2 separate regions of the Homo sapiens genome follow, and region 1 is linked to region 2. The links come from fine-mapping of genetic effects on gene expression. A gene starts in region 2. The other region holds a variant in brackets. All regions are shown on one strand. Distances are between the middles of the regions.

Region 1 (5,387 bases), 27 kb after region 2:
ATTGTGTTCCTTTGGAGGCTTCATGTTTCCTTGCACTTTTGTATTTCTTGTGTCCTTATGTTGATATCTATGGATCTGATGTAATAGCTGCTGCTTCCAATTTTATGGATTGGCTTTGATAGGGAAAGACTTTTGCCTCTAGGTGTTTTTATAGTGTTAGTTGAGTATAGGGTGCTTTGGCTTTGATTCTGAGTGGGCACAGCAGTGTAGTTTCTGTATGATTTCTTCACCTGTCATCAGTGTCAGTGGCATTTGGGTTCCTCAGTGGCTTAGGTTACAGTTGTCAGCAGACACTATGGCAAGGCTTTGCTGGGGATGGGGACACCAGGCAGGCCTGTTCTCAGGCAACAGTGGTGGCAGCAGTGGCCTAGGCTTGCCGGTTCTCAGGCCCCTGTGTGAAATATGTGGGCACTCGTGGTGATGGGTCCTTGAGCCTCCAGGAGATTTAGTTGGATGCTTGCAGTGGCAGTAATGGACCAAGTGGGAGGGCAGGTTCTTGGGCCCCTGCACAATTTGTGTGGCATTAACTGTAGCAGTAGGAAAAGTGGACCAACCCTCTGGCCCCCAAGTGGTAGACACAGGCAGCAGCAGGCTGGGCAAGCCAGTCCTCAGGACCCCGTGTGGCATGCATGTGCCACACCCTGTGTGGCACTGCCCTGCCATGGCAGTGGCAGGCAGGCACTAGCAGCAAAGGGCATGGTGGACCTGTCCTCAGGCCCCTTGGAGGCATGTGTAGATGTGTCGTAGTCCTGCTGCTAGGGAAGATGGGGTTGCTGTAAGTGGCGGTGGCCCTGGGCAGGTAACTCTGAGGCTCTGGGGAATGCACACTTTGACTCCCTTTGTCCCAGGGAAAGCCACTAGGTGCACTGTGCTTCCTGTTTCCTGGGATGCGGGGCATTGCATGGGCTAGAGTGCTGGGGACCTAGCTGCACTGCTGATCTTAGCTGGCATTACAATGCTGTAGCCCTCTAGGTGGACGTAGGAGAATATCAGTGGGGCTTCAGGGGTGTGGAGATTCAGGGTTGTTGGGCCCCAGAACAGGATGTGTATGGTGAGGGCTGGGCTCTTAAAAGAGCCTTATGCTGAAGCTGTTTGGGTCTCAGGGTATGGGGTATGTGGGACCCAATGTGAAGTCCCATTGTGGAACAATGTGATTGCATATATTCCAGACAGCCCCAGGGCATGTGAAGGCCAAGGAGCTAGCTCATGGCTAGGATTACAGGAGTCCATAGTGGAAACATTGACCTCTGAAGATCTCTCAGTTAAACTTTCCCTGGAATGGGAAGTTCCTCCTGGTTCTGAGCTAGTCCCAGCTGGGCTGGCTGCTTCACTTCCCTCTTCTCCCATGCCTCAGAGGTGCACTGTCACTTCTCCGCTGAATTCCAGTGTTCTCTCTTAGATGCTCATTCAATGTGTGATTATCTGCTCACTGTTTTGGTCCTTCTTTGCAGAGGGGGTGAGGGCTAGGTGCCTCTATTCAGCCATTTTAATGCTTCTCCGGCTCATTTTTTAATTGTTCAATAGTATTTTATTGTGTGAATGTACCAGTTTGTTAATATTTTTATCTATTGAGGGATATCTTGTTGCTTCCAATGTTTGACAGTTATGAATAAAGCTTCTATAAACATCCACATGGAGGCTTTTATGTGGACATAAATTTTCAGTTCTTTTGGTTAAATACCCAGGAATGTGATTTGCTGGATTGTGTGATAAGACTATGCTTAGTTTTATAAGAAACTGCATTCCATAGTGGCTGCACCATTTTGCATTCCCACAAACAGTGAAAGAGAGTTCTTGTTGCTCCACATCCTCACCAACATTTGATGTTGTTTTTGGATTTTACCCATTCTCATAAGTGTAATGTAATTTCATTGCTGTATTAATCTGCAAAACCATGATGAAATATGATGTCAAATAGCTATGTATATGTGTATTTGCTCTTTACATATCTTCTTTGGTGAGGTGTCTGTTTAGATTTTTGTGCCCATTTAAAAACTAGGTTGTTTGTTTTCTTATTGTGGAGCTTAAGAGTTCTTTGCATAGTTTGGATACAAGTCCCTATCATATATGGGTTTTGCAAATATCTTCTCTGAGTCTGTGGTTTGTCTTTTTCACTCTCTTGCAGTGTCTTTTGCAAAGCAAAAATTTTAATTTTAATGAAGTCCAACTTAACAGTGTTTTCTTTCTTGGATTATGTTTTTGATGCGTATCTCAAAAGTCA[T/C]CACCAAATCCAAAGTCACCTAGATTTTCTCCTATGTTATCTTCTGGAAATTTTATAGTTTTGCATTATACATTTAGGTCTATGGTTAATTTTGAGCTGATTTTTGTGAAAACTGTAAGGTCTGCGTCTAAATTCTTTCTCTTCTTCTTCTTTTTTTTTTTTTGCATGTGGAGGTCTAATTGTTCCAGCACCATTTGTTGAAAAGACTATCCATTCTCCACTGAGTTGCCTTTGCTCGTTTGTCAAACAGCAGTTGATTATTTTTTTGTGGGTCTATTTCTAAGCTCTGTATTCTGGTCATTTGACCTATTTGTCTATTCTTTCACCAAAACCACACTGCCTTGATTGCTGTAGCTTTGTAGCAAGTCTCAATGTTAGGTGGTGTCAGTTATCTGGCTTTGTTCTTTTAATTTCTTTTTTTTTTTTTTCCTGTGAATGAACAATACTTTCTGTTTCTTTGCATGGCTAATTTTTTTAAACAAATAAATTAGAGATTCCTTTAATGCCAAGTTACACAATCAAAAAGATAACAATCTCTTTCCATTTGCTTTTTGCAAGGTTTGTGTTATTTCAGGGCAAAACGTAGAGCAAGTCCACTGGCAAATCTGGGGGCTAGTGATTATTTTGTTTTGATTTTTATTTTTTTAAATCAGACATTTTAAACACTACAATGAGGTAACTCTAGAAATCAAATTCTGTCCCCCTTTCCCAGAGGTGTTTTATTTATTTATTTATTTATTTTTTGACAGGGTCTCATTCTGTCACCCAGGCTGGAGTGCAGTGGTGTAATCACAGCTCATTGGAGCCTCGACTTCCTCGGCCCCAAACAATCCTCCCACTCAGCCTCCCAAGTAGCTGGGACTATAGGCACACGCCACCATGCCCAGCTAAGTTTTGTATTTTTTGTAGAGATGGAGTTTCACTATGTTGCGCAGGCTGGCTTTGAACTCCTGGACTCAAGCAATCCACCTGCCTTGCCCTCCCCAAGTTCTGGGACTATAGGCTTAAGCCACTGTGCCGGGCCTCCCTTTCCCAGGGTGTATTGTTGCTTCTTGTGGCTTATAGTTGCTTGTTTAATGACTTTTCTAAATAATTTTTATAAAGATTATTCTTTGTCATGTGTGGCTATTACATTTTCTGTCCAGTTAGCTTAGTGGTCAGCCAGTAACTTGAGATTTCTTTAAACATCTGGAGCAAAAACAAAAACCAAATAAACTAGCAAAAGCAAAAACAAAAACACCCCTGATCTTTGCAGGTTGGCTGTGTTGGATCACTTTCTCAATGCTTAGCCAGTCTATTCACAGCTCTGCTTTAGCCTTCACTTTCTGCATGCATGGAAGCTAAAGATGAGCCAGAGGTGAAGTTTAGGATTTTCTCAGGTCTCCTCTGAACATGCGTCCAGCCTTGGGCACGTGAGTGGACTTCTGGACTCCCTGGTATATACAGAGATTTCCTCAGCCTTTTTTCTCCCACATATCTTTCTCCATATATCTTTGCATATTTCCCAGACTTTTTGATGTGTCTGCTGCTTGCCCCCTCTGTTAGCCCTTGCTCAGGTGGCTGCAGCTAGTATGTTTGCCTTTAATTGTTTACAGCAAACACCAGCCAGAAGGCTGTTCCAGCCCTGAGAAAGTTCTAAGGTGTACAAAACAAAGGCAAGCCCCTGAGTGTGAATCCCTCAGGCAGCAACCAGACAGGTCAAAACACACAACCACAATTCTTTGATAACAAGGCCTATATTGCCCCTTCTGGCATGAGCAAGCTATATAACTGGTTATAAAAAGTATTACATTAAATTATGGGGACAGAAATGACTCTACTAGTGAATGAAGAAATCATTTAGATTTTATGGTTAGTAAGTGGAGGTTTGAGAGTAACCATCCGATCTTTATTAATCTTAGTGTATATTATATTTCTAGAATTTGGACTCATATCAAGATGCTCTGAAGAAGAACAACCCTTTAGGATAGCCACTGCAACATCATGACCAAAGACAAAGAACCTATTGTTAAAAGCTTCCATTTTGTTTGCCTTATGATCATAATAGTTGGAACCAGAATCCAGTTCTCCGACGGAAATGAATTTGCAGTAGACAAGTCAAAAAGAGGTCTTATTCATGTTCCAAAAGACCTACCGCTGAAAACCAAAGTCTTAGATATGTCTCAGAACTACATCGCTGAGCTTCAGGTCTCTGACATGAGCTTTCTATCAGAGTTGACAGTTTTGAGACTTTCCCATAACAGAATCCAGCTACTTGATTTAAGTGTTTTCAAGTTCAACCAGGATTTAGAATATTTGGATTTATCTCATAATCAGTTGCAAAAGATATCCTGCCATCCTATTGTGAGTTTCAGGCATTTAGATCTCTCATTCAATGATTTCAAGGCCCTGCCCATCTGTAAGGAATTTGGCAACTTATCACAACTGAATTTCTTGGGATTGAGTGCTATGAAGCTGCAAAAATTAGATTTGCTGCCAATTGCTCACTTGCATCTAAGTTATATCCTTCTGGATTTAAGAAATTATTATATAAAAGAAAATGAGACAGAAAGTCTACAAATTCTGAATGCAAAAACCCTTCACCTTGTTTTTCACCCAACTAGTTTATTCGCTATCCAAGTGAACATATCAGTTAATACTTTAGGGTGCTTACAACTGACTAATATTAAATTGAATGATGACAACTGTCAAGTTTTCATTAAATTTTTATCAGAACTCACCAGAGGTTCAACCTTACTGAATTTTACCCTCAACCACATAGAAACGACTTGGAAATGCCTGGTCAGAGTCTTTCAATTTCTTTGGCCCAAACCTGTGGAATATCTCAATATTTACAATTTAACAATAATTGAAAGCATTCGTGAAGAAGATTTTACTTATTCTAAAACGACATTGAAAGCATTGACAATAGAACATATCACGAACCAAGTTTTTCTGTTTTCACAGACAGCTTTGTACACCGTGTTTTCTGAGATGAACATTATGATGTTAACCATTTCAGATACACCTTTTATACACATGCTGTGTCCTCATGCACCAAGCACATTCAAGTTTTTGAACTTTACCCAGAACGTTTTCACAGATAGTATTTTTGAAAAATGTTCCACGTTAGTTAAATTGGAGACACTTATCTTACAAAAGAATGGATTAAAAGACCTTTTCAAAG
Region 2 (5,387 bases):
GATTACAAGTGTGAGCCACTGCGCCCAGCCAAAATTATCAATCTTATCTCTGTCGTATGTGTATCTTATGATATTGATAATTGTCACAAAACTTACTTTAAAGCTGTTGGTAGACACTAATATTTATTTATTTATTTATTTATTATCTGGAGAAAGACAACATTTTTTAACAAGTAAAAGTCATCAAAATAATGTTTTGCCTGTGTCTGTATTGGGACAGTGTATTGGGTGGCCTCAGATTATGTTTATAATACTTAACCCAGTGTGACACTATTTTTTAAAAATTAAGACATATATACATATCTATATATAGTGAAGAATTCAAATAGGACAAAAAGCATAAAATGGTGAAGAGGCCGGGCGGGGTGGCTCAATCCTGTAATTCCAGCACTTTGGGAGGCTGAGGTGGGCGGATTGTTTGAGCCCAGGAATTCCAGACCAGCCTGAGCGACATGGCAAAACCCTGTCTCTGCAAAAAAATATAAAAATTAGCCATGCATGGTGGTGGATGCCTGTGGTCTCAGATCCTTGGGAGGCTGAGGTGGGAGAATCGCCTGAGTGGGGAAAGTCAAGGCTGCAGTGAGCTGTGATCACGCCACTGCACTCCACCCTGGGCAACAGAGCGAGACCCTGTCTCAAAAAAAAAAAAAAAAAGGCCAATAATCTATTTCTCTTAGTTCTTCTGCTCAAAGGTGAACATTTCTTATGTATCTTTTGAGAAAAAAAGATTCATATGCCTCTATCAACATATGTATGTAGACCCTTGTATTAAGTTTCCTGTGGCTACCATGACAAATCACCACAGACTGTGTGGCTTAAAACAACAAAAATTCATTCTCTCAGAGTTCTGGAGGCTAGAAGTTCAAAATCAAGCTGTTCATAGGGTGATGCTCTCTCCAGCCTCTGGTGGCTCCAGACATCCCTTGCATTGTGACTGCAATACCCCAGTCTCTGCCTCTGTTTGCAAATGCTCTGCTTCTCTGTATCTCTCTTCTCTGTGTGTCTTATGAGGACACAGGGTGTCTTCTAAGGCAGCATAGTATGATGCTTAAGTGCATAGGCACTGGGGCCAAACTGCCTGGGTTCGAATCCCACCCCCACCACTGACCAGCAGTGCAAGCTGGAACGATTACCCAGCTGCGCTAAGTGGAGATGACGTGACAGTACTTATCTCACAGCACCTTAATGAGTTAATACTTGGAAAGTAGTCACAGCAATGCCTGGCAAGAAGATAACCTGTGTAAATGGCTAGATTTTATACAATTGATGTCATACTCTTCTTACAGTTCTGCACCTTAATTTTCTTTCTTTCTTTTCTTTCTTTCTTTCTCTCTTTCTTTCTTTCTTTCTTTCTTTCTTTCTTTCTTTCTTTCTTTCTTTCTTTCTTCCTCTCTCTCTCTCTCTCCCTCTCTCTCTCTCTCTCTCTCCCTCTCTCTCTCTCTCCCTCTCTCTCTCTCTCTCCCTCTCTCTCTCTCTCTTTCTTTCTTTCTTTTTTCTTTTGAGCCAGAGTCTCACTCTGTTGCCCAGGCTGAAGTGCAGTGGCACAATCTCAGCTCTCTGCTACCTCTGCCTCCTGGGTTCCAATGATTCTCCTGCTTCAGCCTCCCGAGTAGCTGGGAGTACAGTTGCCTGCCACCATACCCAGCTAATGTTTGTATTTTTAGTAGAGACAGGGTTTCGCCATGTTAGCCAAGCCGGTCTCGAACTCCTGACCTCTGGTGATCTACCCACCTCGGCCTCCCGAAGTGCTGGGATTACAGGCATGAGACATCGTGCCCAGCCTGCACCTTGATTTTCTTCACTTCATAGTATATCCTGAAATCTTTACCCCTCAGCATACAAAAAAACTATATGATTTGCACCAAACTCCTTACTATTATGACTTCTCTTCTGTGTCAGTCACTATTCCAGCCACTTTAAATTCATTATCTTTCCTAAAAGTACTCCCATTTTGTGGATGAATAAATGGAGGTTAAGGGACTTGTCCCAAGCCTCACAGTAAGTGGCCAAGTGGAGGTTCGGCCCAGTACTGTCTGTTTCTTTGTTTGCTTAACTGTCATTGCCATCTTCGCTATTACTTGATTTTTGTGTTTTTGTCATCCCCTTACAGACGTTTCTGAGTTATGACAGCCTCGACAAGAATAGTCTCCTTGTTTCTGAACATTGGTGTTGTGATGCAATCTCCTAATGAGACATGTCAATGTGCCCAGATCTGCAGTGATAGTTGTCTGTTTTCTTAAGACTTTAGTCCACGGTTACTTGAAATTCCCTCAGAGCCACAGCCAGCCCTTTCCCTTGGCTTGTTTCACAAATCTGGTTTTCCAGGGTCACAGATACCTGCTGCTTTCTGGCTGTCTCCTTTTGCCAGTGGAGCAGAGATCCATCCACTCCTTACTGAGCCTCCCCAGGCCTGAGGAGACTTCCTGTTATGTTTGATGAGTAAGGATGAATCACAAGAAGCCAGCCTTTCTCTTCCTCCTGAAAGCAGAAGTGATTCTTACGGAGATGTCCAACTTTGTCATTAGCCAAATTGTAAGGTCTTAACTTGTTGTTGTTTTTTTTTTAATAAAGATGAGATTGTGCCAGACAGTGAGATAAATTATAGAATGATTGTTTCACTCATGCCTTCTGTCCTTTGCAGAACTCAGTTAAGCAAGAAGTCTGGGGAAAAGGGTTTACTGTCCACCAGAAGTCTCTGTTTAACCAGAGACTTCTGGTAATCAGCCTTTGTTGATGTCATTCTGAAATTCTTCTAAATGGTCTTTAGAAAATTGATTTTTAAATTAGTCTTGCAGGATTTCAGTGTTATTTATTATTCCTAAATTAAAATCTAAACCATTTAATAACACCAAATGTTGATCAGAATGTGGGTATGATTGCTCGTACATATGGCTAAATATGTAGTCATAAATATGTATCAACCAGTAAACTTTCCTTAGAAGTTGATTTTTAAAAAAAAACCCAAATTGTGGAACTATACTTATTTTATTTTAAACTATCTCATCCAGCTAAAATAATGCTCAAAATTGCTTGATAAGGGAAACTGCAATTATTCTTGAAATGTTAAATATGGTGATAATAGAAAACAGGCTGTTTAAAATAACTTTCCACTCAGGTGACAAATGTAATAACCAGGCTGCAAACTCTTACAGAGAAATATTACCTTAGAAAAATATTTTTCTTCACATTGAATTGTTTGTAAGTTGCTTCCTCACACGAATTAGAAAATTGGATTACTGGTTTTGTCTGTAGCCCAGAAAAAACTGCTAACTCACCTCCGGACCTTTGAAAGGTAAAAATATACGTAGGAGTAATTCCAGTGTGGGCCAACAGATGGCACCAATCTGTTTCTAAGGTACCGCTTTACTCAACTTTAAGAACTTGTGTTTGTCAAGCATTTTCAATTGTATTTCCGTTCATTTACAAGTTATTTTCTCTTCTTCTGAAAAAGAGATCTTGGTAAGTAGAAAGACTTCTGTGGCTTTTTCACATTATGGCACAGGTGCTTCAAGTAAGCAAGTTTGCTAACCATTCATTATATAGGAAATAGGTAATGTTTCCTTGAAATTTTTGCAAAATGATTTGAAGTGGTTTTTTTTGTAGATGTTGCAAATGTCCTTTGAATTTCACGAGCAGGATGAAGAGCAGCGTCTTTACAGCTGTCTTGAAAAGATAGAAAACAACTAGCGCTTGTGGTGATAATTAAGGAACAAAACTAATGTTATTTATTTCTTCTGATTTGGCCCAGCGAATTTTCTCTTTTCGTCTTTCTCTAGTTTATTGTTTTCAGTAACATTTAACAGTAATTTTTATATACCACTGATATGGCACCTATTTATTATATGTTTTTACAGCAGACGTGTGTTTGATCTCCCTTGTCGTTTGTCACTGTAACAGTTTGCTGGTCTGTGTCTGTCCCTAATTCATAAGCTTTTTGAAAGCAGGAATTATGTCAGTCCTATTCATATTTATATCCCTGGTGCCTAGTGCGTAGCATGGCACTGGCAGAAAAATAGACTCTGAATAAACATTTATTAAATGGAGGAAGTGGCCGGGACCAAGCCCCTTCACAAGCTTGAATCTGGCACAGTGTAGCAATTGCCTTCCTCCAGGTCCTTCCACCTTCAGTTTGACAAATGAAACAATGTTTTTCTTGCCTATTTGTTAACTTGATTATGTGATCTTTCCTCCACTTATTTCACTTAATTTTTTTTCTGCTCTCTTCTTCCTTGTAGTTTTAATTTTCATAGGTCTTGTCTACCCTTTTTTTCTGAAATGTAGCTTATTTCATCTATTTCCTCACCCTTTTTATTTGATGCATTTAAAAAATCAAGAGCATTTACCTGTTTATTTTTACTTTCTTTAAAAAACTGTGAACTCTCTAATCTTCCACTCTCATCTTCCCATTTTTCCCTCCTTTTTTCCCAATAAATAGAAAAGTTACTATCTTGTTCATTTAGTGTATTCCCTAGGAACTGCCTCAGGGTATGAACGCCTCTGGAGGAATATTGCGTTTTTGTGGCAGGATACCATAAGGACAGCTGACCAGCTTTTCCACCTGGTGACTGATTTTCAGTCCCATGAACCCAGACACCGTGGGTCTGGTTGCCGGGGACCTGTAGGGTAGGTCCTCATCTGTGAATGCCAGTTATCTACTATTATCTGAAAGTTCTCCATCTTTATATTTTAATATTCCAAATAAAACAAGCACGTTTCTTTAAATATAAAATATTTTCACACAGCTATAAAGACAACTCTTAAATTGCCTTACGATAACTTTTTTGGATTATAAAGGACATTCAAAATGAGACATTTTAGGGATATCTGAAAGTATAAGAAAGAAAATTAAATTCATCTATAATTCAGAGATTCAGAGAACCACTATTATTAGTATTTGGTATATTTCATCACATTGTTTGTCCTCTAGCTTTTACGTATATGTCAGGTTTTAATCATATTTTGCAAAATTAGAGTCTTACTACATATATAATTTTTTTTTTTTTTTTTTGAGACGGAGTCTTGCTCTGTCGCCCAGGCTGGAGTGCAGCGGCACGATCTCGGCTCACTGCAAGCTCCGCCTCCCGGGTTCACGCCATTCTCCTGCCTCAGCCTCCCGAGTAGCTGGGACTACAGGCGCCCGCCACCACGCCCGGCTAATTTTTTTGTATTTTTTTTTAGTAGAGACGGGGTTTCACCGTTAGCCAGGATGGTCTCGATCTCCTGACCTCGTGATCCACCCGCCTTGGCCTCCCAAAGTGCTGGGATGAGAGGCGTGAGCCACTGCGCCCGGCCATAATTTTCTATTACTGTATTCATTTAACATTATCATTTTTTCAAAGTACAGTATTTGAGGCTATTATTTAATTATACATAACTGATTTAATCAT

Direction of the effects. Alleles are on the strand shown, and positions count from the first base shown. SD is a standard deviation of normalised expression in the study named.
As copies of C replace T in region 1, the expression in monocytes after LPS of the gene that starts at base 3,403 in region 2 goes up (large effect, 0.88 SD a copy in Quach 2016).

The links. PIP is the estimated chance that this variant, and not a neighbour inherited with it, causes the effect.
Region 1: its variant is fine-mapped to the expression of TLR6 in monocytes after LPS (Quach 2016, PIP 0.91).

Annotation. Positions count from the first base shown.
Region 1 is chr4:38,828,291-38,833,677 of GRCh38, reverse strand. It overlaps TLR6 (toll like receptor 6), which reads left to right. Exons shown (of 2, transcript NM_006068.5): 2 at 4,141-5,387. The coding sequence starts at 4,205. Among named protein-coding and RNA genes, the nearest start is that of TLR6, 26 kb to the left of the region's middle. RefSeq lists an enhancer at 2,042-2,211. The variant T/C (reference allele first, on the strand shown) is at 2,222.
Region 2 is chr4:38,854,833-38,860,219 of GRCh38, reverse strand. It overlaps TLR6 (toll like receptor 6), which reads left to right and starts at 3,403. Exons shown (of 2, transcript NM_006068.5): 1 at 3,403-3,459. RefSeq lists an enhancer at 1,755-2,954.